Linked DNA regions of Homo sapiens. The protein of the gene in region 1 interacts with the protein of each later gene in a pairwise test. Each region holds a gene or a part of one and is shown in the gene's direction. Other genes may lie near its edges. The genes, in order: SNCA, WWP2, ZSCAN1, MSRB2, KLF15, KLHL20 and UBA52.

Evidence for each region.
Region 2: the proteins of SNCA (region 1) and WWP2 interact in binary tests that used the Homo sapiens proteins (3 or more experiments, as listed by UniProt).
Region 3: the proteins of SNCA (region 1) and ZSCAN1 interact in binary tests that used the Homo sapiens proteins (3 or more experiments, as listed by UniProt).
Region 4: the proteins of SNCA (region 1) and MSRB2 interact in binary tests that used the Homo sapiens proteins (3 or more experiments, as listed by UniProt).
Region 5: the proteins of SNCA (region 1) and KLF15 interact in binary tests that used the Homo sapiens proteins (3 or more experiments, as listed by UniProt).
Region 6: the proteins of SNCA (region 1) and KLHL20 interact in binary tests that used the Homo sapiens proteins (3 or more experiments, as listed by UniProt).
Region 7: the proteins of SNCA (region 1) and UBA52 interact in binary tests that used the Homo sapiens proteins (3 or more experiments, as listed by UniProt).

What each region holds. Positions count from the first base shown.
Region 1 is NC_000004.12:89,728,639-89,732,992, reverse strand, and holds part of SNCA (alpha-synuclein), read left to right. Parts: intron 1-3,715; coding exon 3,716-3,799; intron 3,800-4,354. UniProt on the Homo sapiens protein: Neuronal protein that plays several roles in synaptic activity such as regulation of synaptic vesicle trafficking and subsequent neurotransmitter release.
Region 2 is NC_000016.10:69,768,445-69,772,798, forward strand, and holds part of WWP2 (NEDD4-like E3 ubiquitin-protein ligase WWP2), read left to right. Parts: intron 1-4,354. UniProt on the Homo sapiens protein: E3 ubiquitin-protein ligase which accepts ubiquitin from an E2 ubiquitin-conjugating enzyme in the form of a thioester and then directly transfers the ubiquitin to targeted substrates.
Region 3 is NC_000019.10:58,050,514-58,055,474, forward strand, and holds the end of ZSCAN1 (zinc finger and SCAN domain-containing protein 1), read left to right. Parts: intron 1-1,976; coding exon 1,977-2,115; intron 2,116-2,915; coding exon 2,916-3,538; 3' UTR 3,539-4,118; downstream 4,119-4,961. UniProt on the Homo sapiens protein: May be involved in transcriptional regulation.
Region 4 is NC_000010.11:23,115,445-23,119,798, forward strand, and holds part of MSRB2 (methionine-R-sulfoxide reductase B2, mitochondrial precursor), read left to right. Parts: intron 1-3,601; coding exon of another isoform or gene 3,602-3,731; exon of another isoform or gene 3,732-3,859; coding exon 3,860-4,007; intron 4,008-4,354. UniProt on the Homo sapiens protein: Methionine-sulfoxide reductase that specifically reduces methionine (R)-sulfoxide back to methionine.
Region 5 is NC_000003.12:126,344,246-126,347,736, reverse strand, and holds part of KLF15 (Krueppel-like factor 15), read left to right. Parts: intron 1-3,491. UniProt on the Homo sapiens protein: Transcriptional regulator that binds to the GA element of the CLCNKA promoter. Binds to the KCNIP2 promoter and regulates KCNIP2 circadian expression in the heart. Is a repressor of CCN2 expression, involved in the control of cardiac fibrosis.
Region 6 is NC_000001.11:173,731,304-173,735,657, forward strand, and holds part of KLHL20 (kelch-like protein 20), read left to right. Parts: intron 1-2,409; coding exon 2,410-2,983; intron 2,984-4,354. UniProt on the Homo sapiens protein: Substrate-specific adapter of a BCR (BTB-CUL3-RBX1) E3 ubiquitin-protein ligase complex involved in interferon response and anterograde Golgi to endosome transport.
Region 7 is NC_000019.10:18,569,997-18,574,838, forward strand, and holds the start of UBA52 (ubiquitin-ribosomal protein eL40 fusion protein isoform 1 precursor), read left to right. Parts: upstream 1-1,860; 5' UTR 1,861-1,913; exon of another isoform or gene 1,914-2,611; intron 2,612-2,843; exon of another isoform or gene 2,844-2,951; coding exon of another isoform or gene 2,952-2,964; intron 2,965-3,296; coding exon of another isoform or gene 3,297-3,304; coding exon 3,305-3,407; intron 3,408-3,665; coding exon 3,666-3,752; intron 3,753-4,842.

The sequences.
Region 1 (4,354 bases):
ACAACAATAACTAATAACAAAAGAGAACAATTATAATAATATACTGTAATAAAAGTTATGTGGGTATGGTCTCGCTTTCTCTTTCCCTCTCTCTCTGTCTCTAAATATCTTAGTATTTTGGGGTTGCAATTGGTGGTGGGCAACTGAAACCATGGAAAACAAAACCACGGATAAAAGGAGACTACTGTATATACTTTTTAAAACTGATGAAATATTAAACTCATGTTTCTTCTATATCCCACCCATTTCCCCCACCCAAACCTAGATAGATATCTTATTTGATCTGTAAACATTTAATTAATTTGTAAAAGTTAAGAACTTTTTGAAGTAAAACTGCAATATATCATCACACCTAAAGAAATAAACAATAATTCTTAAATATCAAGTCAGTGTTCAAATTTCCCCAACTACCTCATATGTGTTTTCCATTTGCTTATGTAGGGTTCCCAATGAGAATGAAATAAAGTTCTTAGGTTGCAATTGGCTAATGCTCTCTCACTTCTACTTTAAGCGGCAGGTTCCCACTAACTTCTTTTTAGTTGCAATTTACTTATTGAAATTAGACGTATTCTTTGTCTTGTGTAGTTTCTCACAGTGCAAAATTTGCTGATTGTAGCCACTGTTGTAAGCAATGAACATGTTTTTCACCACCTTATATTTGCTGTAAGTTGTCAGTGATAGTTAAATGTTAATCAAATTCAAATTCGGATCACGTAGGGCTTTTCTTTTTTTGTTTTCTTTTTCTATTTATATATTTATTTATTTATTTTGAGACGGAGTCTCACTCCGTCACCAGGCTGGAGTGCAATGGTGTGATCTGGGCTCACTGCAATCTCCACCTCCCGGGTTCAAGTGATTCCCCTGGCTCAGTCTCCCGAGTAGCTGGGACTATAGGAGAACCACCACGCCCGGCTAACTTTTTGTATTTTAGTAGAGATGGGGTTTCACCATGTTGGCCAGGATGCTATAGATCTCCTGACCTCACCGATCATGTAGGACTTCAATTGTCGAACAAACGAACCTTTAATAGCAGTTACACCATTAGGATGACCTGATCCAACATCGAGGTCGTAAACCCTATTGTCGATTTGGACTCTAGAATAGGATTGTGCTGTCATCCCTAGTGTAGCTTGTTCCCACTTGATGAAGTTATTGGATCAGTGAACAATAGCCCACTTAAACTAGTACAGTCTTAGTTTAAGATGGTGATGTGTATGTACTTCCATCAGAGGGCACATAATACAGTAAATCCTCACTTAACTTCATCAATAGTTTCTGGAAACTGTGACTTGAAGCAAAACAACATATAACAAAACCAGTTTTACCATTGGCTAATTGATATAAGCAAGAATTAAGTCCTATGGCAAATTTCTGGACACAAAAACACCATCAAACTCCTAAATAAAGATAAATCACTTCTGACATTAAACATTGAAATTAATGTGAGCTATATATACGTTTAAGAAAGATTAATACAAACAAGTCAAATAACTTACCTAATTATTTCGGTGGAGGCCGCAGGTGGTTGGAGCCTATCCTGGCAGCTCAGGGAGCAATATGGGAACCCACCCCGGACAGGACGCTGTTCCATTACTGCAGGGTGCTCTTGTACACACCCACTCACCCAGGCTGGAACCATGCAGACACACACACTCACCTAACCTACACATCTGTGTACATCCTTCAAAGTTCAGCCAAATAACATATAAACAAATCCAGTAATATCCATCAGTCTTAGTTCCGTCATAACAACTCCTTTTTGATCATCAAACAACAAACAGGGTAGGTCTGCCATATTTACTTGTCTGGTCCATATCAAAATTTTCTAACAAATTATATTAGAAAATCAAATCTCTGTCAGTTTCAAAATCATGGAAAAAAATTTGCCTTATTTCCCTTATACTTGGATATCCTAACAGTAATCTAAATATTAATGAGAAAGTTAATGATGTCGTTTCCTTCTCCCTGTTGTAAAGAAGGTTTTGCTGTCCCGTTTGATCACTAAGACTAATTGACACTCAGAAAAAGCATAGGAAACTTCTCAGCATCACAAAAGCTCTGTCATCTAGAGAAGCTAGGACTTGAGCTCAAGTCCTGTGACATGGAAGGCCTTGTGCCTAGCCATCCTGCAGCAGAGGCGTATCTACCAAGAAGTGAAACACTACGAAAACAGTATGTTTACTCCACATTTTAAAGTGAGGTAGTTTGGGGTGGTTCATATTTTATTTAATTTATATATTATTTGGATTTTTTTTAGTTTATAAAAAGGGCATTGGCAAGGGCAGAATGATCTGTAAGCTTCTCTGCCCACCTACCATAAGCATGATCTTTAGTGTGACCTTTTCTTACTGTTAGCCATTTTCTTATACTTCTGCGTCCCTGTCAGTCACTTCCATGTGAAGACATGGGGAAGCTTTTTTACATCAGACATGTTGTTGAAAATCAGCCGCGTTGGCTGAGGGATTATTTGATCTCTTTCTCCAAGTCCCTTTAGGCTCACATTGCCTCTCTGTTCTTTGAATTTTCACTTACCTTTATCTTCTTATAATTACTTTGCTGAAATAAATGCAAAGCAACAAAAGGTATTTAGTGAAGAATACCAACAAAGCCATGACCATTTCAGGCTGAGTTTTGTAGTATTCTTTGTCTAGGAAGAGATACCTAGAAAAATTTTCTGACCATGTATTTGATTATTTTCCTTCAATATGTATAGTCTCAGTCTTCAAATTTCAGAAAAGAATTTGTTTCTTCATTGTCATTTAAAATTAATGTGTTAAATATGTATGCTTTTACATTATAAGTGGTTATAAAAGTTAAACACTTAGAAAAAAAGTCAAAATAACATACATACTATCCAACAAAATAACTTTCATATTTTATTGTGTTTTCTTCCAAACTTTTTACCTTTGCGTCTGAATTCTGTGTAGGTTGTATCTATAATATAGACAACACTTTATAGCCTGCTAAATATTATACCATAAATAGGTAGTTGTTACATAATTCTCAGGTAATAGTAATACAGGTCTTTATCATAATCTACTGAGTAGTTGAATGATAATTTTTTTTAAGACAAGGTCTCCCTCTGTCACCCAGGCTAGAATGCAGTGGCATGCACATGGCTCACTGTAGCCTCTACCTCCCAGGCTCAAGTGATCCTCCTGCCTCAGCCTCCCAAGTGGCTGGGACTGTAGGCATGTGCCACCATGCCCAGCTATTTATTTGTATTTTTAGTAGAGATGGGGTTTCATTGTAACAGCCCAGGCTGGTCTTGAACTCCTGGACTCAAATGATCCACCTGCCTCAGCCTCCCAAAGTGCTGAAATCACAGGAGTGAACCACTGCACCCAGCAATAATTTTTTAACTCTTCATTATTCATTGAACATTTAGTTAACAATTCTAAAAATTTTGTTTCCTGCTGTCATTGATCTTGTGAAAAATATCTTTGGACTATAGCTGTGGATTATTTCCTAAATAGTAAATTACTTGAGCAAAAAGTTTACATACTTTGAGGGTTGATAACCCATGTTGCCGCAATGTTTCCCCGGAGGCATTGTGGAGTTTAGAATGCCAGTAGTAATATTAAGGTGTGCCATTTTCAAGATCCGTGGCCAACATCCCTATATGTAAGATTTTTCCAAAACATGGTTCTGATTTTTAAAAGTGAAAAATGCTACTTCATCATGTTCTTTTTGTGCTTCTTACTTTAAATATTAGAATGAAGAAGGAGCCCCACAGGAAGGAATTCTGGAAGATATGCCTGTGGATCCTGACAATGAGGCTTATGAAATGCCTTCTGAGGTAGGAGTCCAAGCTGAATCTTTCTAACAAGACAGTACCAAAAACCTGTCATTGTCACATTTCTCTTTCATTAGTGCTTAGTGAGAATCATTTGCTCTCTACATGCTCATTACGTGGACAACTTGCAAGTTAAGAATAGTTTTTACATTTTTAAAGGGTCCTTAAAAAAAAAGAGGAGGAGGAAGATGAAGAAGAGGAAGAAAGGATGTAAAAGAAATCATATGTAGTCCACATAGCTTAATATACTTACTACTTGACCCTTTACAGGAAAAGTTTACTAACCCCTGCATTAGAGAATATATTTTTAGAAACTTTACATTCTAAAATAAATTTCTAAATGGAAAGTTAGGGAAATCAATGGAATGCCAAAGGAAGGTTATTATTTTTTGCCATACATGTCCAATGGGATGACGCATAGTAAAATAAAAGTTACCCACACAAGTTATAGAATAAAAAGATAAATGCATGATTTGCGACAATTGATATATTCCAGTATAATGTTTTAAACAACACAATATGATTGTTAATTTTATTTTGATTGAAAATGAAAGTATC
Region 2 (4,354 bases), on another chromosome or scaffold:
CTAAAAATACAAAAAATTAGCTAGGCGTGGTGGCAGACACCTGTAATCCCAGCTACTTGGGAGCCTGAGGCAGGAGAATCGCTTGAACCCAGGAGGCGGAGGTTGCAGTGAGCCGAGATTGCATCACTGCCCTCTAGCCTGGGCAACAAGAGCGAAACTCCTTCTCAAAAATAATTAAATAAATAAAAAATAACAAGTACCAAGACATGGCAGTCCTGACCTAGGGCCCGTCCTCTTCCTCAAGTCACCCATGCCTTTTGCTTCTTGTTTTGTCTTCAGATCTGCTTTCCAGTCAGCCTCTTTTATTCTTAGCCTGTAATTCCACGGGGCTTCCAATAGTGTACCTCCCTGCTCCCTCCCGTTTTCTCTTTTTCCGTGCTTAGTCTTTGTAAGGATGTCATTTGGCAAAGTTGATTCTGTTTGATTGTTTTTCAATATGGGCCTTTGGAGAATGGAAGGTAGTAACTCAATGCTGGACAGAGGAAGGAGGCCAAGAAAGAAGCATTAGTGTTGGAGTAGCATGAGCCTGTGAAGAACAGGAGAATCTTTTGGACAGAGCTTTTCCTTGCATATCTTTCAAGAAATGAGTGCAGGCTGGGCGCAGTGGCTCACGCCTGTAATCCCAGCACTTTGGGAGGCCAAGGCGGGTGGATCATGAGGTCAGGAGATCGAGACCATCCTGGCTAACGTGATGAAACCCATCTCTACTAAAAATACAAAAAACTAGTCAGGCGTGGTGACAGGCACCTGTAATCCCCGCTACTCGGAAGGCTGAGGCAAGAGAATTGCTTGAACCCGGGAGGTGGAGGTTTGCAGTGAGCCGAGATTGCACCACTCACTCCAGCCTGGGTGACAGAGCAAGACTCCATCTCAAAAAAAAAAAAAAAAAAAAAATAGAAGTGGGTGCAAGGTTTATCTCTAGTTAGAAATAAGCTCTGCCTGTTTCTACAGCTGGTTAATTAGAAATAAAATCTTTGTGAACCCATGGATTATATTGAAAAAAATTTTTTAAAACAAGAAATAAAATATTGATACTGGTGTGTAATTTCTGCTTTTCCCTGGCTCCTTCTACACAGGTCTTTTCATCTCAAGATCGGTGTTCACTGGTTTCTTGACTCAGAGCTGGGTCAAGAATTTTAGGAATTGAGGTGCTTGTAATGCCAGAGCCAAGAATTTCAGTATCGAGAAGTGGTTTTGTTTGTAGTTGATATTTGAAGAGCTCTTACTGTGTGTCCTCTGCTTTACCTGAATTCATGTAGTCAGTACAGTAATCTTATAAAGTAAGTACTATTATTGGGTTCATTTCACAGATGAGAAAACTGAGATTTAGAGAGGGTAGGTATGATTTTGTGAAATATATATTTAGTCTTCCTCCCATTTCCTGGCCTATAACTCCTAAAATCATTGAAATCTCCCAAGTGATCAGTGTCTTTTTTTTTTTTTTTTTTGAGATAGAATCTCGCTGTGTCGCCCAGGCTAGAGTGCAATGGCATAATCTCGGCTCGCTGCAGCCTCTAAGCGATTCCCGTGCCTCAGCCTCCCAAGTAGCTGGGGCTACAGGCACATGCCGTCATACCCAGCTAATTTTTGTATTTTTAGTAGAGATGGGATTTCGCCGTGTTGGCCAGGCTGGTCTCGAACTCCTGAGCTCAGGTGATCTGTCTGCCTTGGCCTCCCAAAGTGCTGAGATTACAGGTGTGAGCCACCACACCTGGTCAGTGTCTTTTTGTGTGCTAATAATTGACCTTTGGTTGGGGACTCCTGGATAGTCTCAGGATTTGGGGGCCAGTGGCCAGGGAAACCAGCCTTGTAGTTAGAGGGTTGGCACTTTTAGTCCCACACCCAGCCTCTGGGACAGGGAGAGGGACTGAAAGTTGACTTGATCTGCAGTGGCAGTGACTTAATTGATCATGCCTGCGTAATGAAGCTTCCATAAAAACCCTGAAGGACTGGGTTTGGGGAGCTTCTGGATGGCTGCACACGTGGAGGTTCTTGGAGGATGGCACCCTCAGAGAGGGCTTGGAGGCTCTGTGCCCCTTCTCACATGCCTCGCCCTACGTCTCTTCATTTGTATCCTTCATAATATCCTTTATAATAAATCAGTAAATGCAAATAAAGTGTTTCCTTGAGTCCTGTGAGTTGCTCTAGCAAATTTATCAATCCTAAGAACCTCGATTTATAGCCGGTTGGTCAGAAGCACGGGTAAAACAACCTGGAGCTTGCAATTGATGTCGCAAGTCAGGGGCAGTCTTGGGGAACTAAACCTGTGGGATCTGATGCTATTTCCAGGTGGATAGTGTAGGAACTGAATTAGAGGACACCCAGCTGGTGTCTGCCAGCTGCAGAATTGATTGCTTACTTGGTATGTGGGGCTCCCACACATCTGGTGTCAGAAGTATTCTGTGGGGCTGGGCGTGGTGGCTCACACCTGTAATCCCAGCACTTTGGGAGGCAGAGGTAGGAGGATCGCTTGAGCCCAGGAGTTTGAGATCAACCCGGGCAGCATAGTGAAATCCTGTCTCTATTAAAAAAAAAAAAAAAAGGTAGTATTCTGTGTTGTGAGAGTATAGCAGGAAGAAACTGAGTTTGCTTTTTCCTCTCCATCCTCTCAGTAAGTAACTTGCTCTGGATCACTCAAAGGCAAATGAGTGGTTCAGCTTATTAGCCTCCAGAAGATTGACAGGTCTGAAAGGTTGTTGCTGAGGTAGGGTGATAAAAGTGATCAGGTGCTTCAGGTATTGCAGGAGCTGCCACTAGCTTAATCTGATGTGTAGTTGTTTTCTCCTGTCAAAAGTTCTGTAATAATTATTATTTTTCTTTTTGAGATGAAATCTTGCTGTGTCTCCCAGGCTGGAGTGCAGTGTGCTATCTTGGCTCACTGCAACCTCCGCCTCCCGGGTTCAAGCTATTCTCTTGCCTCAGCTCCTGAGTAGCTGGGATTACAGGTGCCTGCCACCATGCCCGGCTAATTTTTGTATTTTTAGTAGAGACGGGGTTTCCCCATGTTGGCCAGGCTGGTCTCGAAATCCTGACCTCAAGTGATCCACCCGCCTGGGCCTCCTAAAGTGCTGGGATTATAGGCATGAGGCACAGAGCCTGAAGGACTGTAGCTTTGTAGTAAGTTTTAAAATTGGAAAGTGTTAGTCATCCAACTTTGTTCTTTTTCAAGATTGTTTTGGCGATTCTGGGTTCCTTGCATTTCCTTACTTTAGGATCAGCTTGTCAATTGCTGAAAAACAATTCTCTTTTTCTCTCTGTTTGTTTTTATATCTGGCTTTTTGGCCAAGGACTTCTGCAATGTTTGTTGACATTTAGGTGTGAAGTACACATGTATGCTAGGACCCAAGTGCGGGAAGGTGAGTTGGGTGGGGGAAATTGACCTTTTCAGTTTATAATGTAGACTTTCACTGTCTCGCTGGGTCAATATGGTGCCTTATCCCTATTGTCAACTATGCCTGAAGTCTTGAGTTTGGTTTCACCTGTTGAGAAACTAAAAGTCTTTTTAGTCTTTTTTTTTTTTTTTTTTTTTTTTTTGAGACAGAGTCTTGCTCTTGTTGCCCAGGCTGGAGTGTAATGGTGTGATCTTAGCTCACCATGACCTGTCTCCCAGGTTCAAGCTATTCTCCTGCCTCGGCCTATCCCAAGTAGCTGGGATTACAGGCACGCACCACTACACCTGGCTAATTTTGTATTTTTAGTAAAGACAGGGTTTCATCATGTTGGTCAGGCTGGTCTCGAACTCCCGAACTTGGGTGATCCGCCTGCCTCGGCCTCCCAAAGTGCTGGACTAAAAGTCTGCTTGGGATTAGGAAGGGGCAACTGCTTGGTTGAACTGGGTGGGGAGGGGACTCTGGGACTCTAATCATTCCCAAGATAGGCTTTTGCCAGTCCTCCTGTTTTTAGCCCCACTTCTGCCCTTACTTTCGGAGGTACCTGTACTACTGATGCAGGGCACGTGAGCCCCAAAACTGGGGGTTAGTCTGGGTAGGTTCTTGGCTTTGCCCTGGAAAGAATTCAAGGGCAAGCTGGTAGTAGAAGAAAACAGCTTTATTGAGGCAGCAGAGTTACAGCTCCGTGACTGCTCCTGCAGAGCAGGGCTACGCTATAGGCAGTGTGTCCCTAGTAGCAGCTCAGGGGCAGTTTTGCTGTCATATTTATACCCAGTTTTAATTATATGCAAGTTAAGGAGTGGGCTATTAGACATTTCTAGAAAAGTGGTAACTTCTGGGGCATTACCATGGCATTGGCACACTGTCATGGCACTGGTGGGTGTGTCTTGTGGGGAGGTGCTTTTGGTGCCTCTTCCCTGTTTCAGCCAGTCTTCAGTCTGGTCCTGAGTCGAGTCCTCCCTCCT
Region 3 (4,961 bases), on another chromosome or scaffold:
TATTCTTGTTTCATTTTGTTTTGTTTGAGACGGCGTCTCGCTCTGTCGCCAGGCTGCAGTGCAGTGGTGCAATCTCAGCTCACTGCAACCTCCGCCTCCTGGGTTCAAACGATTCTCCTGCCTCAGCCTCCCGAGTAGCTGGGACTACAGGTGCACGCCACCACACTCAGCTAATTTTTGTATTTTTAGTAGAGATGGGGTTTCACCATGTTGGCCTAGATGGTCTCGATATCCTGACCTCTTCATCCTCCCGCTTCTGCCTCCCAAAGTGCTGGGATTACAGGCGTGAGCCACCACGCCTGGCCCCTTATTCTTGTTTTCTTTTTCTTGGTTGCTTGGTTTGCATCAGGACTCTCCCAGGGTGTGACATGCATCTCCCTCCCGCCTCCAATCTCCCCACCTGTCATCCCTGAAACAATAAACCTGGGTCCACCTCTGGAAGGATAAGAACCCAGATCTGTGGCCAGTGGCTCACCGGGGCTATGGGGATGTGTTTGCATTTGAAGGTACAGATAGGGCCCCGGGAATGTCTTGGTTTCTGTGCCTGACCCAAGTGTGTCGATAGCTCCTCTGATGCCCCCTGAGAGTCAGGGGAACTAAGCATGCCCCTCTCTCCACACATACATGCCACCCACTCTTCTCTCCACGCAGCCCCTCTGCTGCCCTTGATTAGTCACAGACGCCAAGGTGGGTGAAGTAGGGAAGAGCCTGACTGTCCACAATGGCCCCCAGTAGCCAGGTACCAGGAAGAGGCGTAAAAGGGAGTCCCGCCTTTACTCCTATAGATGGTGGCTCCTCTGGTTACGATTTCAGAATTCAACATGTTTTACAATCAAAACTAGCATTTGATAAGAAATAAAAATCAATAACCCAGCCAAACACACCATCCACATACTCCCAACGTGAGAGCAGGAAGAATCTTGTGCCTTAACTCCCTTCCTGCCATCAGCTCCCTCCCTCCCTCCCTCCCTCCTCCGTCTCTAGCCCAGCAATCCCTCTACTCCAGTTTTGCCCAGCTATTGGGAATCTTGGACAGCTTCCTTAGGCCCCTGTGCATCCAGGTAGGGTTGGGGCAGCAGAAAGCGAAGACCCACTCAAGACAGACCTTGTCAGTGCGTGCTTGACTCCTGGTCTTTTCTGATGCTTTGTTTGACTCAACATACCTCCTCCAACAACCTGATTTGCATTGATAAGTGTCACTGTGTTTTCCTTTGACACGACTCCGTTGCAGTTTGCCGAGCCCTTGATGGTACCAGGCTCTGGGCACGTAGCACCCACATCCTCACTGGAAACCCAGAGAGCTAAAGCTCCTCATCCAGGGCCACACAACAAGCAGGGCTGGAGCCTGGACACCAAGCCAAGCCCCTCTGTTTCGAATTCTTGCTCTTCAACCACAGCTCAGTCTCCTCCCAGGAAGTGGTGATCCCCGCTTTGGGCGGGACACGGTTAGGTGCATCAGAGGTCATAGGTCGCAGGTGGGATGTGAAGTCTGTGAAGTCGCCCACTTCCTCTGGGCTTGTGGGCAAGGACAGTGCAGCCTTGGGGGACGGGAGTTAGGAGCCCCAGCTTGTAACAGTGACCCGAGCTGTGGCACAGGTCCCCTGGCTCCATCTAATGCTCTGTTGTCACTGTCCTGAAATGATCAACGATCTTTGAACAAGGGGATTTGCATTTCCATTTTGTACAGGGGCCCCTCGAATTCTGTCTCAGGTCCTGTTAAGAGCTCTTTAGGAGTGGTTATTTATTTTTTGTATAAGCAGAGTCTTGCTGTGTTGCCCAGGCTGGTCCCAAACTCCTGGCCTCAAGCAATCCTCCAGCATCAGCATCCCAAAGCACGGGAACAACAGGCGCGACACCGCGCACTGCCCTGGGACAGAGCCTTTGGGGATGACGCCCGTTCCTTGGTTGTTCGGTGGTGGTGGGGAGGATGGCTCCTGAGGGGCAGCTGCCGAACAGTCCTGTGCTTGCCATTCTAGGCGTCTGAGCTGATTCTGGATGCAGTGGCAGCAGCCCCAGCACTCCCCGAGGAAAGTGAGTGGCTGGAGACTACCCAGCTCCAGCAGAGTCTGCACACCAGGGCGGAGGCCGAAGCGCCCCGCGCCCCTGGCTTGCTGGGTGAGTCTGGCTCCTGTGTGGATTAAGGGTTGGAAATGGAGTTTGGGACTTCAACCCAAAGCCACAGACTTTGTTAATGGGTTGAGTTGGGTGCTTCGGTGGTGAACTCCACACTTCCCCCAGAAAGCATGCACACCTCCTGTGAGGACTGAGATCTGGGGCCCCTAGAACCACCATGTACATCGTTCACCCTACGAGAAGGGCCTCAGCCTCCGCACCTGAACGGCAGCCAAGGCAGACAGTCTGAGAGTGTTGGAGCACGGGGTTACCCAGAGGGCCAGCCAGGTAGGAACAAGGGCCAGTGCTGTGGGATCTGCTCCCAAAACATGTGCCTTTTTTTTTTTTTTTCGAGACAGAGTCTTGCTCTGTTGCCCAGGCTGGAGTGCAGTGGTGTGATCTTGGCTCATTGCAACCTCCGCCTCCTGGGTTCAAGCGATTCTCCTGCCTCACCCTCCTGAGTAGCTGGGATTACAGGCGCACACCACCACGCCCAGCTAATTTTTGTATTTTAGTAGAGACGGGGTTTCACCATGTTGGTCAGGCTGGTGTCTAACTCCTCACCTCATGATCCACCTTCCTCGGCCTCCCAAAGTGCTGGGATTACAGGCATGAGCCACTGCACCGGCCACATGTGCCCTTGTATCTTAAAGGACAGAACGGAGGACACAGGGGCCGTATTGAGCAGAGGAAGGGCCTGGACTTGGCTCAGTCACTGGGGTCCTCCGTGCCCCTGGGGAGCACAGGGAGATGCCAAGGCCATCCACTCACTACAGGTGACCCATCTCCCTCGCCCTCCACAGGGTCCCGGGCCCGCTTGCCTCTGAAGCCGAGTATCTGGGACGAGCCTGAGGACCTTCTCGCAGGGCCCTCCTCAGACCTGCGGGCAGAAGGGACTGTGATCTCGAGCCCCAAGGGTCCAAGTGCTCAGAGAATCAGTCCCCGAAGGAGAAACAGGAACACTGACCAGAGCGGCCGCCACCAGCCATCCCTCAAGCACACCAAAGGTGGTACCCAAGAGGCTGTTGCAGGCATCTCGGTAGTGCCGCGTGGGCCCCGAGGTGGGCGGCCCTTCCAGTGTGCCGACTGTGGGATGGTCTTCACCTGGGTCACCCACTTCATCGAGCACCAGAAGACCCATCGCGAGGAAGGGCCCTTTCCGTGCCCCGAGTGTGGCAAGGTCTTCCTGCACAACTCCGTCCTCACTGAGCATGGCAAGATCCACCTGCTGGAGCCACCGAGGAAGAAAGCCCCCCGGAGCAAGGGCCCCCGGGAGTCCGTCCCACCCAGGGATGGAGCCCAGGGCCCAGTGGCCCCTCGCAGCCCCAAAAGACCCTTCCAGTGTAGCGTCTGCGGGAAGGCCTTCCCCTGGATGGTCCACCTCATTGACCACCAGAAGCTCCACACGGCCCACGGCCACATGTGAATGGCCAGCCTCGGGCCTCGGCCACCCGGCCCTGAGTCCCTGGGGGGAGCTGATGGGCCCCAGAAGATGGGGGACATCCCCCAGCCCCACCAACCCCTGGCCACCTTGGGACTCCTCTTGAAGGACACAAGCTGTTTCTCGGAAGACCCTGGACACCTGCTCCGAAGCCAAGCACGGGATGGGGCTTCCCAGGGTCTCAGCTGAGAAGCAGCAGTTCCACAGCACAGCCTGGTCAGTCCTGCGCACTATAGTTTTGCAAGTGGCTTGAAGAGGAGTTTCATTCGCGTCCCATCTTTCAGAAGCCTTGTCCAGGTCTCCCTGTTAGCACCTGACTCAGCGGCAGCTTCTGCCGCTGGGTTTTCATTTCACTGTGGATATCCCTGAGGCCATGAGGGTGGGAGCCGGCCTGGGCAGCTCCAACTCCAGAGAAGGGTACAGCTGACCCCGGCTGCCCTCCTGCCAGCTTAGCCCCCTTGGAACCTAACAGATAAACAGGGTTTTGTTTTTTTCCTTTTTTGGGTAAAGTACATGCAACATAAAATTTACCATTTCAGTCATTAAAAATGAACAGTTCAGTGGCATTAAGCACATTCACAACACTGTGCAACTACCAGCACTCTCTAGCTCCAAAGATGTTTTCGTCTTGCCCAGAAAGAGAGCCCACAGTCCTCAGCACGCCTTCGCCATTCCTGCCCGCCCTGACAACCAGAATCTGCTTCCTGTCTCTGAGGATTTCAGGCGCAGTCTTTAGGCCTGACCAAAACTGACCTGCCTGTATTTTGTTTGACTTACAGAAGGATTTTTTTTTTAGATAGATGCCAACATTTGTTTAAACCATAAAAATCTGGCTTTCTGGTCTGCCAGGAAGGATCAGATGGTCTCCAAAGAGTGGGCCCGCCTCTCCTGCTAGGCTGGAGCAGAGTGTGGGCAGGCGGTGACGTCACAGCGGGGAGCCAGCCTCGGACTCGGCTTCTCACCCGTCCCCAACTCATTGTTGTCGGACACTCGTCCCCTTTCAAGCAAAAGCCTTAAAAGTTTTTGCCTTTTTCTTTTTCTCCTCCCGACTTCACTTGGAAACACAGTGTTGGGCTGACTGTGAATCCGCACAGGCAGAGACATTTTTCCAAGTCGCCTTCTAAATCAAAAGCCTTTGGACTTACCCACGTCACATCCGCCTGCTGCTGCTTCTCAACCAAGCTGCCCCCACTCTCGGCCTCTGTCCCCGATGGCCCTCTCGGGCTGTGCAGGTCCCACGGACCCACCGCTGCCTTCACTTCATCCTCGCTGCCGCGCTTGCCTTCTCACGCTTGCCTTCTCGGAGCGCCCCCTAACCGCGCCTCCGGACCTTGCTTCCCGGCTCCCTCAGGCATCCCCAGCTTTTCCCTGCAGTCCCCACTGGGGGCTCCTGGCTCTATCCTATGCC
Region 4 (4,354 bases), on another chromosome or scaffold:
AAAACCTTCTGTATGCCCCATTCCCTCAAAGGAATAGAAATTCTTCTAAGAGGTTAGGGTTGTCAGTTATCACCAAGTGCCTGTGCTGTTGGTTTGGGACCTGTAGAACTTCCAGAAATCAAGGAAAACCAAAGCAAATAAAACGAAACAAAGTAAAAATCCCTTAGAGTATATGATTCAGAATGGTTTTAGTTCTTCAAGGGCAAACCTTACAATCTGCTAATCACTTAAATATGTATATTGGAATTTCTGATTGGCTTTAATATTTTGGTTCCCAGTCTTAACTTATATATGTTAGGCCTCTCATATTACTTGGTAAAAATCTCCCGATTCTGCTAATTGCATCAATAAAGGTTTATTGTTTCCCATAAAATGCTTTAATGAGTTTTTATTAGCCTTAGTTTCATTTATTTAAAAAATTTTATTGTATTCATAATTCTCAATCAAAATACCTTTAATGATCACTAGTTGATATATAATGTTGAGGATGGAAAGACTGGGATTAAAAGATACTTAATGATGTTTTTCCCTGAGCAGAGTGGCCAGATGAATGTTTTTGAACCCCTGGAGGAGGGTTGCAAAGAATCCGACCTGAATATGCAGACATTTCTAGTTGGACCCACAACTGCTCACATTCCATAGATTTCTGGTATTAATAATAAAAAAATATTAAAAAATAGCTACCAACTCAAGTGCCATGTGTCAGGTACTATGCTAAGCACACACACAGAAAGTGAGGTGATAATGCCATTGCTATTGTTAGCTTAAAACAATCATACAATCTATAAATTTAGAAAAGGAGACTTTATTTCTTCTAAAGGGTTACAGCCTTCAAGGTGGCCATCCTACAGGCTGGGAAGCGAGCTCCCAGCCAAGAGCAGATGCAGGCACTTGGAAGGGGGAGCAGCTGGGGTAGGAGCTTTATGCTGAGAGGGTTGGCTAAATATACCTATTTAACAGATCACAGAAGGGGCTATGAAAATTTGTGAAGATGGTCCTGACATACACATATTGAACAAACATGCATGTAACATATGACCTATGTTTATTTGGGGGTAGAAACTTAACATTTAAATGTATTATAATTAGATCCTATACATCAAAAGGTCTTTCAGGATATGAAGGCCCACAAGTGCACAGCCTCTGTAAACCATCCAGAACCACTTCATGGTCTTTTAATCAGGAGAAAGTTACTAAAATCAGTCTCTTGTGCAATCAAAGCTGTAGTTACGGCTGGTGGAACAGAGGGTCTCAGCTAGTCAGTGTCTGATGGTAGATGAGCTGCAATTGCTTCAACACTGCTTATCTCAAGGCCAGTGATTGTTTAGCTGCTAGAGAAGAAGAAAACCCCTGTGGCAGTTAGAGTTGATTCTTTAAGTGTAGGGGTGCATGACTTCACCCTCGCCTGGCATGGCCTTAGGTCCTGTTTATAATTTGGTATATTATTGCCACAAAGAGGCTGTTCTGCCAGTCTTATGATCTCTATTTAAACATTAATGCTGGTCATTTGTTGTGTCTAAACCACAAAAGGGAGAGGGTATAATGAGGTGTGTCTGACCTCCTGTCCCATCATGACCGGAAACTCGATTTAAAGGTTTTTCTGGAGTCCTCTTGGCCAAGAAGGGCTCTATTCAGTCAGTGGGTGGCTTAGAACTTTATTTTTAGTTTATACTTATCTATAGACTAGGATGCTGAGGCTTCAAAAAATTAAATGACTTGCCAAGGTGATACAGATGTAACAGACAGATCCCAGATTCACACACAAATCTTTCAGAAGTCAAAGCCCTTCCTCTAATGGCTATACCTGTGGTTCTTAAAGCCTGGTCTGAGGACCCCAGAGATTCCTGGGGGGGACCTTTCTAGGGGCTTTTCCAACCACACTTGAGACCACTTGAGGCCACATCCTCTTATACTCCAATCAAAACAACATAGCAACAGACTGAATTCAGAGGCACATATGAAGATTCAGTTGTCTTTTTTTTAAGCCGGATGTTAAAGAGCCTTGCAAAATTGTAAAACAGTGCAACTCTTCTCATGAAATGTTTGTTTCATTTTGAAAAGTATAATTATTTGCCTTAAATATATGTTATGTTAACATATAATAAATTTATTTCAGGTTGAGCATCTCTACTCTGAAAATTCGAAATCTGAAATGCACCCAAATCTGAAACTTTTTTATTTTTTGAGACAGAGTCTCGCTCTGTTGACTGATCTCCACTCACTGCAACCACTGCTTCCTGGGGTCAAGTTATTCTCCTGCCTCAGCCTCCCAAGTAGCTAGGACTACAGGCATGCACCACCATGCCCAGCTAGTTTTTCTATTTTTAGTAGAGAGGGGGTTTCACCATGTTGGCCAGGCTGGTCTCGAACTCCTGAGCTCAAGTGATCCACCCGCTTCCACCTCCTAAAAAGCTGGGATTATAGGCGTGGGCCACCACGCCAGCAAAATTCGAAACTTTTTGAGAACCAACATGCTAGTCAAAGGAAATGCTCACTGGAGTATTGCAGATTAAGGATGCTTAGCCATCAAGTAAAATGCAAAATTCAAAAAGATCTGAAATCCGAAACACTTCTGGTCCTAAGCATTTCAGATAAGGGGCACTCAACCTATATTAAAAAAAAATTAATGCACACATATTTTTAAATTCTCATTTATAATGTATAATTTGTTAAATGTTGACATACGTAACTCACAGACAAAAGCTCTCAGCAATCCCTATTAATTTTGGGGACACAGAGGGGACATGAGGGGTGCCGAGACCAAAATGTTTGAGAATTGCTGCATTACACAATTGTTTCTGTGGGAGTTTGTGCTGCCAGCTAGGCTTCCTTCTGTGTTCATAGTCTAGGGATTTGATTCTTTGCTACTTTTTCTTCTTAGATTAGTTTTTTGTTTTTTTTTTTTTTTTTTTGGCTGGGTCTAACATTCAGTTCTTCTCTTTCTTCCTTAGATAGAGAGAGCCATTTCCTTGCCACAGCAATTTTTGAAGTCTATTTTCCCAGTGCCATTTAAGGGAGCTTATCCATGAGAGCACTTAGAGGGTGGGTCTTTGGTGAGTGGATTTGCCTGCTGTCCTTCTCCTTGTGCCAGCATCATGAGTCCCTGGGAGACTTCTGGAGGGTTAGGTTTCACTGCAGTGATTGATGCCAGGTACCCAGGCGTATTAATTAATACTAATCATCACCATCACAGCAAGCATTCAGGGAACTTACCATGTGCCCAGCACCGTGCTAAGCTTTATGTCACACTTCAGTTTCCCCTCAAATCCTCAAAACAGCCCTGTAGGGTAGATATTATTCCCATTTGCTAGGTGAGCAAACTGAGGCTTCAAGAGCTGTGGTTTCACACAGCTAAGAAGTGGCCAGAGGCAGCTTTTGAATCCCTGGTCAGGCGTCTGTGTTGAGATAACCTGAAATTCCTGTTGCCAAGCATGACTTTCTCATCAGACCTTACACTTCTGCGCTGCTCTAAGATGATGATGACTTCCTCCGAGCATTAGTATTTCGTTTTGATTTCTCCCCTTTTGACATTTTCAACACATGGGTTTGATCTGTGTTACCTAATATGCAACACAGTTCACAAAACACCATGTGTTTTTAGATCCTTGTTGGATATCCAGAAAGAAGTCTTTAGCATCAAAGGATCAAGAAGTCCTTCCACTTCGAGAGGCAATGGCTTCGATAGTGAAGGTGCAGTGAGGACGATTCCGGGGGGACTGACTGTCGAATAACTGGGCATGGGATCTGGCAGAGGAGAGTGGGAACAGATCCTGCTGCCTGGAACAACACATCGGGGCACCTCTTGGCATGTTAATGACAGTGTCATTAGCAGCTGTAGTATCGTTTATGTCTTCCACAGTTCTGAGAAAAAGTACTGCTCTGGCACTGGGTGGCCTTCGTTTTCCGAGGCTCATGGTACGTCTGGCTCTGATGAAAGCCACACAGGGATCCTGAGACGTCTGGATACCTCGTTAGGATCAGCTCGCACAGAGGTTGTCTGCAAGCAGGTGAGGTTTCTCATTTTGTTTTACTTTCCCTGATGCTGCCCCCAATGCCACAAAGAGCTCTCTTGTTCTTGGCAAATCTGGTGTCCTTTTATAGGGGTACTTTCTTTTGTCTTCAGAACACATGGGGTTTCTTTTTTGTTTTGCTTTGTTTTGTTTTGTTTTGTTTTGTTTTGAGACAGTCTCGCTCTGTTTTGCAGGCTGGAGTGCAGTGGCATGATCTCAGCTCACTGCAGCCTCCACCTCCTGAGTTCAAGTGCCTCAGCCTCCCGAGTAGTTGGGATTACAGGTGCCTGCCACCACACCCAGTGAATTTTTGTATTTTTAGTAGAGATGAGGTTTCGCCATGT
Region 5 (3,491 bases), on another chromosome or scaffold:
CCCTCAACAGGGCTGAGAGCAGGCTTTCCCTGTTCTGATCCAGCCGTCTGGGAAGTGCTGCTTGCCTGCCTTCCTAGAAGTTTCCTTGCCTCACTGTCAGACATAGGCATCCTTTGTTCCTTGCAGCAGAACGTCCTGTTCCAGAATGGCCAAGCCATTCCATCCAGAAAGAATCCCTTCTGCTGCAGTGAATATGAATATGAATAACTGTCATCAGCCTGTAGGGTGGGTACTTTTGTCGTCCACAGTGGATGTGGTGGGGGACAGAGAAGGGGAGTTCCAGGCTCCTCTTGAGCGTCAGAGCCAAGAGGTGGTAGGTGCAGGATTCAAACTTAGGGGTCTGGCTCCCAGCCTGCTCTCATGACCCCTCTGCATTGAGGCTTTTTCTGACCTCCTTCCCTCTGTAGGCAGAGGCCCCCAGTATGGTTGGGCAGGTTGTGAACTGCACAACTCTAGGGAGCACCATTTCCATTGCAGTTTCTGAGACTGGACTGTTTGCGGTGTTGTCTGGCGGATGAGGGTTAGTGTCTCAAGGAAGGGACGCCTTCATACAGAAGTGCTGTATGCACCAGCCCTGACATTATAGCTGCTCTAGAGAGACACTGGACCCCTGTGTACCCTCTGCCCTACAGCTCAGCACAAATCATAGTGCTGCCCTGTCTGCAGCAGGACCCACCAGGAACCAGGCCCAACACTCAACTCCATGCAGGTGATAAGAGCTCATCATTCTTGAATAATTGCCACGTGCTAAGCAGGGCTCTAAACCGTTACTGGTTGCCTTGTACAATCCTCACAGTCCTCAGGAATAGGTCTTTTGTTCTCCCTTTGTCTGGGTAGAGAAACTGAGGCTCAGGGAGCTTGGTGACTTTCCTAGTTTGCCTGGTTGGTAAGTGGCAGAGCTTACTGCCTACAAGGGCTGCATCTTACCCACCGGGTTCCCACATCCCCCACTGTAGTCCCCAGGGCTCTCTGTTGGCTGCTGTTTGGGAGAATGTGGCATGCAGGGGTGAGGCAGGGGGTCTTCTGAGGGCTCAGTTCCCAGGGAAGTTCCTCTCAGGTGCCAGGACCCTGTGGCAGCAGGGAGGGAATTCAGGTGAGGACAGCATGTTGTCCAGCTTGGTTCTATCTCATCTGCCTGTCCTTCCCAGGGTGTCACCATGACCAGAGATCTGTGTGGCCCCACGTCACCACCTGTGGCCTTTGAGATGAGTCTTGGAAGGTGGGCAGGAATGCCAGAGTCTTCATTGGATGAATGAAGAAATTGAGGCCCAGAAAGGACCATTCAGGGCACCCAGTGGGGTGGGAACTGTCAAGGCAGGAGCCTGAGACTCTGTCCCCTGGGCTGTGTGACTTGGCCTCTTTAAACCCTTGCCATGGTCTTGCCAGTCCAATGGGGCTGGCTCATCCTGGTTCCCTGGCCAGTGAGATGCTGGGTGACCCCAGGGCTGCAGCCTGGGAGGCGTGGCACTCTGTGTCTGCAGCTTTCTGCTTACCCCTGCCCTGGGCCAGCTCCTCTGCTCAGAAGCTGTGTGCCCAGCTGCAGCTGGGGGCAGGTGTCCTGCCCAGGAGCACAGGTGTCAGCTTTGACTGCCAGGGCACATTTATCCCATTTCCTCACTGGCACAGGGCCCTGTGACACACACACCCATCCAGGCCTGTACAGGAGGCTGGGGGGCTCTGCTGACTGGGAGTCCAGGTCATCTGCCATTGCCAGGGCAGGGGGCTGTGTCAAGACCTCTGCTCCAGCCTCAGGGGCCCTGTCTTGTCAGTGACCTGGACCAGGCCCTCAGCACCCTGAGCTTCAGTTTCCTCCTCTGACAGGCAGGGCAGTTGGGCTTCACCTAGTCTGGAGATGTGCTGAAAGCACTGCCCTGTGCCTGGTGCCACCACCACTCTGTGATGTGAGTCGGAGTTCCTGTCTCCTCCTGCAGGCCCTCCTGCCACCCCCTGTGCCTTGTCCAGAGCATGTTCTGCTGGGTCCTTCTGCTCTTCCACCCACAGGGTCAGGGCGCCAGGGCATCACCAGCCCTTACCAATTGCTGGGTGGGAACTGCTGCTCTGGGCACCGCCTCTCGCTGGGTGGCCCTGGTCCACAAAGGGGTGTTGGGCCTCGTGTCCCTGTGTGTGTGTGTGTGCGTGAGTACATGGGGGCATGAATTTGTGCCTGTGTGTGTGTGTGTGTGAGTATGTGTGGGCACATATTCGTCCGTGTATGTTTGTGTGCCTGTATGTGTGGGCATGTATTTGTCCGTGTGTGTGTGCGTGCATGCTTTGGGACTGCTCCTTGACAGTGTCTGCCCCCCTAGGGCTGCTTGCTGTGCCCACTCTTGCATTGAAATCCACCTCCTCAGCACCTACCATATACCAGGCATTGGGCTGGTCATGGGAAGACCACCGGGAACCAAGACAAACATGTCCTTTGTCATGGAGCTGACAGTCTAGTGGGACAGACTGACAGTCATCAAAAAGTTGAAGATAATTTAAAATCAAAACAACAGCAAGAATGAGGAGAGAGAGGTGTGTAATGCCACAGGAGCCTAGAATTGGATGCAGTCCTGGAGGGATTTCCTAAGGAAGTGACATTCGAGCTGAGCTCTAAGGAATGGGTAGGAGAGAGCAAGGAGGGGGAGGGAAGAACATTCTAGAAAGAGGGAACAGTATGTGCAAATGGCCTGTGGCAAGAAGGACCAAGGAAAGGTCAATGCAGGTGGAGCACAGAGCGGGATAGTGTGTCGTGGGAGGGGTAGGTGGGGTGGGAGGGACCTGCTGCCAAGCCAGGGGTGGAGAGGGCCTCAAATCCCTGAGGTTGGTGGCAAGCAGTCCAGGCCCTCGATGCAGCTTGGGCTCTTGACTGTCACATGAGTGCCTGCTCCCAGGCCAGCAGGGCCAAGAAAGCGAAATGTCGGGAGCCACCTGAACTCCCAGATACACTTTGCAGGGTCAATCTTTATTTGGGCCTGCCTTAGAGGGCCCAGCTTCCAGCACAGCTGGTTTCAGGAGTGGGTGGACTCAAGTCTGAGGACCTCTCTCCCTGTGCTGCTTCCTCCTCCCAGGCCTCCGTTTCCCCTCCGGATGGGCGGTCCTGTACAGGCCTTCACAGATGCCCCTGTGGAGTTCTGGTCCAGTGGGGTAGATGAGGCCAGGGTGGTGAGAGGCAGCCAGCATCAGGGCCTGAGCGACTGAGTGCACCTGTGGCCTCAGAGACCCCTGCACACTGGGTGGGCTGTGGGAGGGAAGCCCTGGTCCCTGGTAGCATTGGGGTCCTTTCCTGTTGGGAGCTTTTACCAGCTGCTCTGGCAGTTCCCAACAGAGAATGCCCACTGTGCCAGCATGAGCCTTTACTGTAGTTCTTTCCATCTTGGAGGGGTGGCAGGGGCAGCTTGGCACAGTGGCTCACGCCTTTAATCCCAGCACTTTGGGAAGCTGAAGTAGCCTGATCGCTTGAGCCCAGGAGTTTGACACCAGCCTGGGCAACATAGGGAGGCCTGGTC
Region 6 (4,354 bases), on another chromosome or scaffold:
TGTGGCAATTCCTCAGGGATCTAGAACTAGAAATACCATTTGACCCAGCCATCCCAATACTGGGTATATACCCAAAGGATTATAAATCATGCTGCTATAAAGACACATGCACACGTATGTTCATTGTGGCACTATTCACAATAGCAAAGACTTGGAACCAACCCAAATGTCCAACAGTGATAGCCTGAATTAAGGAAATGTGGCACATATACACCATGGAATACTATGCAGCCATAAAAAATGATGATTTCATGTCCTTTGTATGGACATGGATGAAGCTGGAAACCATCATTCTCAGTAAACTATCACAAGGACAAAAAACCAAACACCACATGTTCTCACTTATAGGTGGGAATTGAACAATGAGAATACATGAATACAGGAAGGGGAACATCACACACCAGGGCCTGTTGTGTTGGGGGAGGGGGGAGGGATAGCATTAGGAGATATACCTAATGTTAAATGATGAGTTAATGGGTGCAGCACACCAACATGGCACATGTATACATATGTAACAAACCTGCACGTTGTGCACATGTACCCTAAAACTTAAAGTATAATTAAAAAAACATTTAAAAAATTAAAAATATAATAAAAATAAAAACCAATAACGGCTGGGCACAGTGGCTCATACCTGTAATCCCAGCACTTTGGGAGGCTGAGGCAGGCGGATCACGAGGTCAGGAGATCAAGACCATCCTGGCTAACTCGGTGAAACCCCGTCTCTACTAAAAATACGAAAAATTAGCCAGACATGGTGGCACATGCCTGTAGTCCCAGCTACTTGGGAGGCTGAGGCAGGAGAATCACTTGAACCCAGGAGGCGGAAGTTGCAGTGAGCCGAGATTGCGCCACTGCAGCCCAGCCTCCGTGACAGAGCCAGACTCTGTCTCAAAAAAAAAAAAAACCAGTGTGATGGCATGTGCCTTTAATCCCAGCTACTCAGGAGGACTGCTTGAGCCTAGGAGTTCAAGACCAGCGTGGGCAACTTAGTGAGACCCTCATCTCAAAAATTAAAAAAAATCAATAAGTAAAAAAACCCAGCAACAACAAATGGTAGAATAATCTGAAAAAGAGAGAGATTCTTTTCCTTCTCCCTTCTTGTACCTATTGTTCCTTTTGTCTTGGGATTTCAAAACTCAGGCCAGTGGCATTTAAGCTTTTTTGATATAACCTGCAGTTTACGAGGGGAAGCAGTGATGCGTATCTATACAAATTTGTGTGTGTACATACACACAATTGAACATGCTTAACTAAATGAAATGTATGCTGTTACTTTCTATTTCATTTTTTAATGCTTCTTATGAGGCACTGAATTTTACAACTAAACCTAGTCCCCATTTACAGCACTCTTACCATAGAAAAATGCAAACCTCCAAATAAACTTTTAGATTCAACTTTTAAATACTACTTATTTATAAATTGAAGAATGTCTGTTTATGAACTTATTCACTTATTTTATAATCATACCGAAACCTCAGTGATTCAGACCAATTTGACAGGAGCAATTCAACATATGTAGTACTTTTAAATGAAGCTTATCATATTTAATATCTCTAGATATGAAATTAGACCCAAATTAATCTAACAAAATCTTGACCTGGAGGCTCTTTGGAGTCCTGCTAAATCATCATTTAGCTTGCCATTTTCTTTACTATTTTAATTTTAATAAACTTTGAAGAAAAGATTTCTATATAAAGATAAACTTCAATCCAGACTTTTTTTTTTTTTTTTTTTTGAGACAGAGTCTCTGTCACCCAGACTGGAGTGCAGTGATGCAATCTCGGCTTACTGCAGCCTCTGCCTCCAGGGTTCAAGTGATTCTCATGCTTCAGCCACCCAAGCAGCTGGGATTACAGGCATGTGCCACCACACACGGCTAATTTTTCTGTAATTTTAGTAGAGACAGGGTTTTGCCACATTCACCAGGCTGGTTTCGAACTCCTGGCCTCAAGTGATAAGCTTACCTCAGTCTCCCAGGGATTACAGACATGAGCCACCACACCAGGCCGTCAGTCCAAACTTTTTATATTGTCTTTAATTTGAAATTTAACTATTAATTGAAGCGTGTTAACTTGGGCTTAATTTTTAAAATGGATAAGCATAACCACCTGATCTAAAAGTTTTATTGCTATAGTAGCTCAATTTAAATGGTTTATGTAGACCAGGCATGTTGGCTTATGCCTACAATCCCAGCACTTTGGGAGGTGGAGGCAACAGGATCACTTGAGCCCAAGAGTTTGAGACCAATCTGGGCAACACAGTGAGACATCATCTCTACAAAAAATTTAAAAAAAAAATCACCAAGCTAATTACATTTCCTTATCGCTTGAATTACAAACATTTAAGGGGAGAAAAGAGCTTATAATAATACTGCCATCTTCTCTCTCTCCCCCATCATTCCTATAGGTGTACCAACATTCGACCAGGAGAGACTGGAATGGATGTAACAAGCCGCTGCACCCTTGGAGACCCCAACAAACTGCCAGAAGGGGTTCCCCAACCTGCCCGCATGCCCTATATCTCAGACAAGCACCCTCGACAAACCTTGGAAGTGATTAACCTTCTGAGAAAGCACCGGGAGCTATGTGATGTGGTGCTAGTTGTGGGCGCCAAGAAGATATATGCCCATCGAGTCATTTTGTCAGCCTGTAGTCCCTACTTCCGAGCTATGTTTACAGGAGAATTGGCAGAGAGCCGTCAGACAGAAGTAGTGATCCGAGACATTGACGAGAGGGCTATGGAATTACTGATTGACTTTGCGTATACCTCCCAGATAACAGTAGAAGAGGGCAATGTTCAGACTCTTCTGCCAGCTGCTTGCCTCCTCCAGCTGGCAGAAATACAGGAAGCCTGCTGTGAATTCTTAAAGAGACAATTAGATCCTTCTAACTGCCTGGGCATTCGGGCTTTTGCTGACACACATTCATGTCGTGAGTTGCTAAGGATAGCAGACAAGTTCACCCAACATAACTTTCAAGAGGTGAGTTGCACTTGGTGTTCCAATGCACCCATTTGTTGGAGAGCAATATGGGTTCACATTCTGCTAAATAACACTTGCCTGGGTATTTCCTGCTGATTCTAACTCATAATAGCAAATAAATAAGTTATTATAAATCCTAAACCTGGCTTTTATTTTAGAGGGCAATTTTGTGTTCTACCAGCAAGTTAAGATTTAGGGATTTATTCTCCCTAACTGTATTCATAAAAGTATTTAAAAAAAAATTTTTAAAAAGGTTTATTTATAAGCCAAAATAGAGTAATTCACAAGAGGATCTATGCCTGATAGGATACCTGGTATCATGATTTATATAAGATATTTCCTTCCTGATTATGTGGATTATTCAGAATAAATTATAGATTATAGGTTGTTTGGTAAACTAATAATCTGAAAAGATGAGTTTAGATGTTATCAAAATAATTTTCATTAAACCTATCTTTCCCTTATTTATTTAACAAATATTTGTAAAGCTACTATGTTTCAGCCACTGTGCTTGGGAGCATAGGGTACAATAGTGAACAAGAAATCTAGAGTCTCTGTATTCATGGAGTTTATAATCTAGCAGGGAAGATAATCATTAAATGCTTAATTATACAAATAATTAACTACAGTTAATGGGTGTTACAAAGAAGCAGTCCTGGATGATTTAAGAGTGTATTACAGAGAAATTTAACTTTGGTGCTGGAACAACTTGTGCAAAATCCCAAGACATTAAAAAGCATCACTAGTTTGAAGACCTGAAAAAAACCCAGTGAGACCCAGAGACCAAGGGGGGTAGAGGATGTTACATAGTGATTACACAGAAAGAAGAGGGCTAAATCACACTGAGGTTGATAGACTATGTTAAGAATTTGAGATTGGCCTGGTGCAGTGGCACATGCCTGTGATCCCAGCACTTTGGGAGGCTGAGGCGGGCAGATTGCATGAGCTCAGGAGTTCAACACTAGCCTGGGCAACATGGCGAAACCCTGTCTCTACAAAAAATACAAAAATTAGTCGGGCATGGTGGCGTGCACCCTTAGTCCCAGCTACTTAGGAGGCTGAGGTGGGAGGATGGCTTGAGCCCAGGAGGTAGAGGTTGCAGTGAGCCAAGATCGTGCCACTGCACTCCAGCCTGGGTGAGAGAGCCAGACCAGACCCTATCTCAAAAAAAAAAAAAAAGAATTTGAGATTGATCCTAAGAGTGCTAGAAAACCATTAAAGGGTTTTAAGCAAAGACAAAACATGGTCTGTTTTACAACTTTTTAAAAAATCATATTTTTATTTATTTTGCAGTAAAGTGGTCAGCTCAGGACCATAGTTTTTTTCCCCCTAATAGTTTTTGGAGAACAGGTGGTGTTTGATTATATGAAT
Region 7 (4,842 bases), on another chromosome or scaffold:
CTCTAGCCTGGGCAAAAAGACCAAAACTGTTGTCTCAAAAAAGAAAAGGAAATTAGGTTCTTAAAGGCATCTTCCCAGACGTGAGAGTGTCTGCTTTTGCCTGGTATAGTAGTGCCTGCAAATGTTCAAGGAAATAAACAGGTACCCCTGTTAAGCCTATAGGTAACTTCTCATTGCTCCCCATCTTCTCTGTACTCAGCACTTTTTTTTTTTGTTTTGTTTTTGAGACAGCACCTCTCTGTTGCCCAGGCTGGAGTGCAGTGGCTGAATCATGGGTCACTGCAATCTCAAACCTATGGGTTCAGGCAATCCTCCTGCCTCCGAAGTAGCTGGGACTGCAGGTGCGCACCACCACACCTGGATAGTTCAAAATAAAACTTTTTTTTGTAGAGACAGGGTCTCACTATGTCTTCCAGGCTGGTCGTGAATTCCTGACCTCAAGTAATCCTCCCTCTTTGACCTTCCAAAGTGCTGGGATTACAAGTGTGAACCACTGCACCCGCCGTGGCACTTTTTTTTTTTTTTTTTTTTTTTGAGATGGAGTCTCACTCTGTCACCCAGGCTGGGTGCAGTGGCGTGAACTCAGCTCACTGCAACCTCCACCTCCCGGATTCAAGCGATTCTCCTGCCTCAGCCTCCTGAGTAGCTGGGATTACAGGCACCCGCCACCACACCTGAAAAATTTTTGTAATTTTTTTTTTCTTTTTTGAGACGGAGTTTTGCTCTTGTTGCCCAGGCTGTAGTGCAATGGCACTCTCTCGGCTAATTGCAACCTCTGCCTCCCGGGTTCAAGCGATTCTCCTGCCTCAGCCTCCTGAGTAGCTGGGATTACAGGCATGCGCCACCACGCCCAGCTAATTTTGTATTTTTAGTAGAGATGCGGTTTCTCCATGTTGGTCAGGCTCGTCTCGAACTCCCGACCTCAGGTGATCCGCACATCTCGGCCTCCCAAAGTGCAGGCGTGAGTCACCGGACCCAGGTCCCGCCCTGGCACTTTTTAACCACCCACAAATCTGGATCCTACACTGAAAAGAGACACTGCAGTGGCTCACGTCTGTAATCCCAGCACTTTGGGAGGCCAAGGCGGGCGGATCACCTGAGGTCGCGAGTTTGAGACCAGCCTGACCAACATGGAGAAACCCCGTCTCTACTAAAAATACAAAAGTGGCCAGGCATGGTGTCGCACACTTGTAATCGCAGCTACTCGGGAGGCTGAGGCAGGAGAATTGCTTGAACCCAGGAGGCGGAGGTTGCGGTGAGCCGAGATCGCGCCATTGCACTACAGCCTGGGCAACGAGAGCGAAACTCCGTCTCAAAAAAAAAAAAAAAAAAAATCCTGAGTCCCGCTTGACACCTTTTGTCAGGCACCACCACCTTTCTGGGCGAATGCGGTAGTACCGTCTGCTCTCCCTGCTGCTGTCCTGAAATCCATTCAGGCACAGCGGCCGAGAGCTTTATAATAACCGATTCCAGGTGTTAGGTGCTTTCCCAGCCCCGACTCCTGCGTCCTGGACCCGCAGTCCTCTGCTTAATACCTTTGCTTTATTAGAAAACATTCTCCTCTACTCCGTTCAGCTATTCGCTGAGGGCCCGCCAACCGCCAGCGGTTGTCAGTGGCCTAGAGGCAGCGGACGCAAACACGGGGAGAGGTGCAATCGTCTCAAGTGACTCGGCGGGCGGGGCCCACAACCGGAAGCGGGTGGGCGACCTTCACCCACGTGCGCTGCGGCTTCGTTCGCCAGCATCCAAGATGGCGGCAGGGCGGGGCCCAAGGCGCGGCGCGAATTGTGACGCAGGCGTCCGGCGTGCTCCGTGCGCAAGCGCTTTCGGCGGCGATTAGGTGGTTTCCGGTTCCGCTATCTTCTTTTTCTTCAGCGAGGCGGCCGAGCTGGTTGGTGGCGGCGGTCGTGCGGGTTCGCGCCGGGCCGAGAGCGGGTTGGGGGCTGCGGGAGGCTGCAGGGGCCTGGGCGGCAGAAGAGGCGGCCCTGAGCTGGCTCATGCGGGCCAGTCTCGGCAGGGTGGCTGGGCAGGGCTCGCGAGGCCACGGCTCGGAGCCCAGACCGGGGCCCAGGAGGCGAGCGCCGTTTTGGAGAGGAGCCTGCCTGCTCTGCCTGCCAGCGTGACCCCACGAGGCCTCGGGCGGGAAGAGGTCCTCGGGGCAGATCCGAGTTAATGAGAGAGGGGTATTGAGCGTGTAGCGTTAACTCTGCCAGTCACTGCGTCAGTCGCTTTGGAAATACTAAATTTCTCGAGCTGAGTCTTCATACCTGGCTCCATTACTACGTCTGTAAGGAGGAGCTGGTGGTAGTGTCTGCTTTTTAGACTTTTCTTTAGACTATTTGTATTTTTTTCAGATGGAGTCTTGCTCTGTCGCCTAAGCTGGAGTTCAGTGGTGCGGTCTCGGCTCACTGCAATCTCCACCTCCCGGGCTCGAGCGATTCTTCTGCCTCAGCCTCCCGAGTAGCTGGGATTATAGGCGCCTGCCACCACGCCCAGTTGATTTTTGTAGTTTTAGTAGAGACGGAGTTTCACCATGTTAGCCAGGCTCATCTTGAACTCTTGACCTCAAATGATCCGTCTGCCTCGGCCTTCCAAAGTGCTGGGATTACAGGCATGAGCCCCTGCGCCCGGTCGATTCTTTGTCTTTTTAAGTCAACTTTTATATGTGAACAATGCTTGGCAGGTGGTTGGTAGATACTAAGTGATGTTCGTGGTTTGGGGTCAAGGCAAGAAGTGGGGTCTGGAGAGTTTTGGTGTAATTGAGAAGGAAGCTAAGAGTGTTGGGTGCTCCAGCTTGGAGTTAGAGAGGAGAGAGGCTGCGACAGGAAGGCATGTGTGTTGTAGGGGATGGCTTCCCATCCAGGCTGGCAGCAGGAGCAGCCTGTGCAGATCAGGACCTGGCTGCCGTGGAAGAGGGTGGGACCGCCTTCAGGGAAGATGGATCTAGCAAGATGATGCCAAAGGGTACTTATTCCATCAGGAGATACTGACGAGTCCTTCCGCCGCTAAACCTAAGGAGAATAACCACAGTCTGTGTTCCTGAAGAGCACCCGTGCGGTCAGGAGGGTGGAGGACATGTGGTCTTTAGTTCCAGGACATGTTTAGACTACAGGCCAGGGTGTGTGAGAAGCCTAGCAGGGCCAGGCTTGGAGGAGTGAAAGGAAGACAGGTACTGGGGCAGGACCAGTTGGACTTGGTGCAGGCAAAGGGATAGCAACTGTGGTGTAGGCACCTGAGCTTGTGCTACTCAGGCATGCATTGCTCACCAGTCTATCCTGCCTCCCTTCCTCCTGCAGACGCAAACATGCAGATCTTTGTGAAGACCCTCACTGGCAAAACCATCACCCTTGAGGTCGAGCCCAGTGACACCATTGAGAATGTCAAAGCCAAAATTCAAGACAAGGAGGGTGAGTAGGGCTGGGTGTGGGGGCTCTGGCTGTGAACTGGGAGTCCCTCTCTGCCCAGGGGAGTCTCAGTCCTGTGTGGGTTGTGCTGACTTTAGATCTGTTTTGCCCTTGCTTCTCCATGTGATCTGAAGAACGTTTGTTATCTTCTACCTCAGTTGGCCTTTTGAGAAACTGGGGGTAGTGCTGGAGCTCCCCTGCAGAGGACACTGCCAGTAATATGGTCCGCAGAGCCTCTAACTGAGCCTCCCTCCCCCTCAGGTATCCCACCTGACCAGCAGCGTCTGATATTTGCCGGCAAACAGCTGGAGGATGGCCGCACTCTCTCAGACTACAACATCCAGAAAGGTACCGGGGTTGGGGTTGCTGGGCAGGGACCCAAGATCCCCAGGTCCTAGGAAAGGAGCATTGATGGCCTCAGGGGTTGGGGAGCAGTTCAAATGACTTGTGTTTTGTTTAAAATAATGGGACTGGGCACAGTGGCTCATGCCTGTAATCCCGGCACTTTGGGAGGCTTAGGCGGGTGGATCACCTGAGGTCAGGAGTTCAAGACCAGCCTGGACAACGTGGTGAAATCCCGTTTCTATTAAAAATACAAAAATCAGCTGGGTGCAGTGGCTCAGGCCTGTAATCCCAGCACTTCGGGAGGCTGAGGCGGGCAGATCACAAGGTCAAGAGATTGAGATCATCATGACCAACATGGTGAAATCCCATCTCTACTAAAAATACAAAAATTAGCTAGGCATGGTGGTGCGTGCCTGTAGTCCCAGCTACTCAGGAGGCTGAGGAAGGAGAATTGCTTGAACTCGGGAGACAAAAAAAAAAAGTCATAATGTGAATTTTTTTATCACTGCAATAAGGAAATTAGTGTCACTTGTGGGAGCGACAAGAATTCAGTGTCCTTTTTTTGTGAGACAGAGTCTTACTCTGTCACCCAGGCTGGAGTGCAGTGACGCGATCTCACTGTGACCTCCGTCTCCCGGGTTCAAGCGATTCCCCTGCCTCAGCCTCCCGAGTAGCTGGGATTACAGGCACCCGCCACCACGCCCAGCTAATTTTTTTTGTATTTTTAGTAGAGACAGGGTTTCACTACGTTGGCCAGGCTGGTCTCTTAAAGTGCTAGGATTACAGGCGTGAGCCATGGTGCCCCGCCTAGACTTCAGTGTCTGACCTTGCCTGAACCACTTAGAGGTCGGCTTCCATGTTAGAAACCCAGATGGATGCCTCAGTTGGCATGTGTCAGTCTCAGACTCCCCCCAGGGCTCGTGGTCAGTGCTGAGATGGAGATTTCCTGGGGCAGGCTGGCTGGGACAGTGTATCTTCCACACGTAGAACACTCGGGGGATCCCGACTTGGTGTCCCCATCACACTTGAGAAAGCAGCAGACTATAGGCCCTGGAGGGTCCTGCCCCTGTGACTGAGGAGCCAGGGCTGGGCT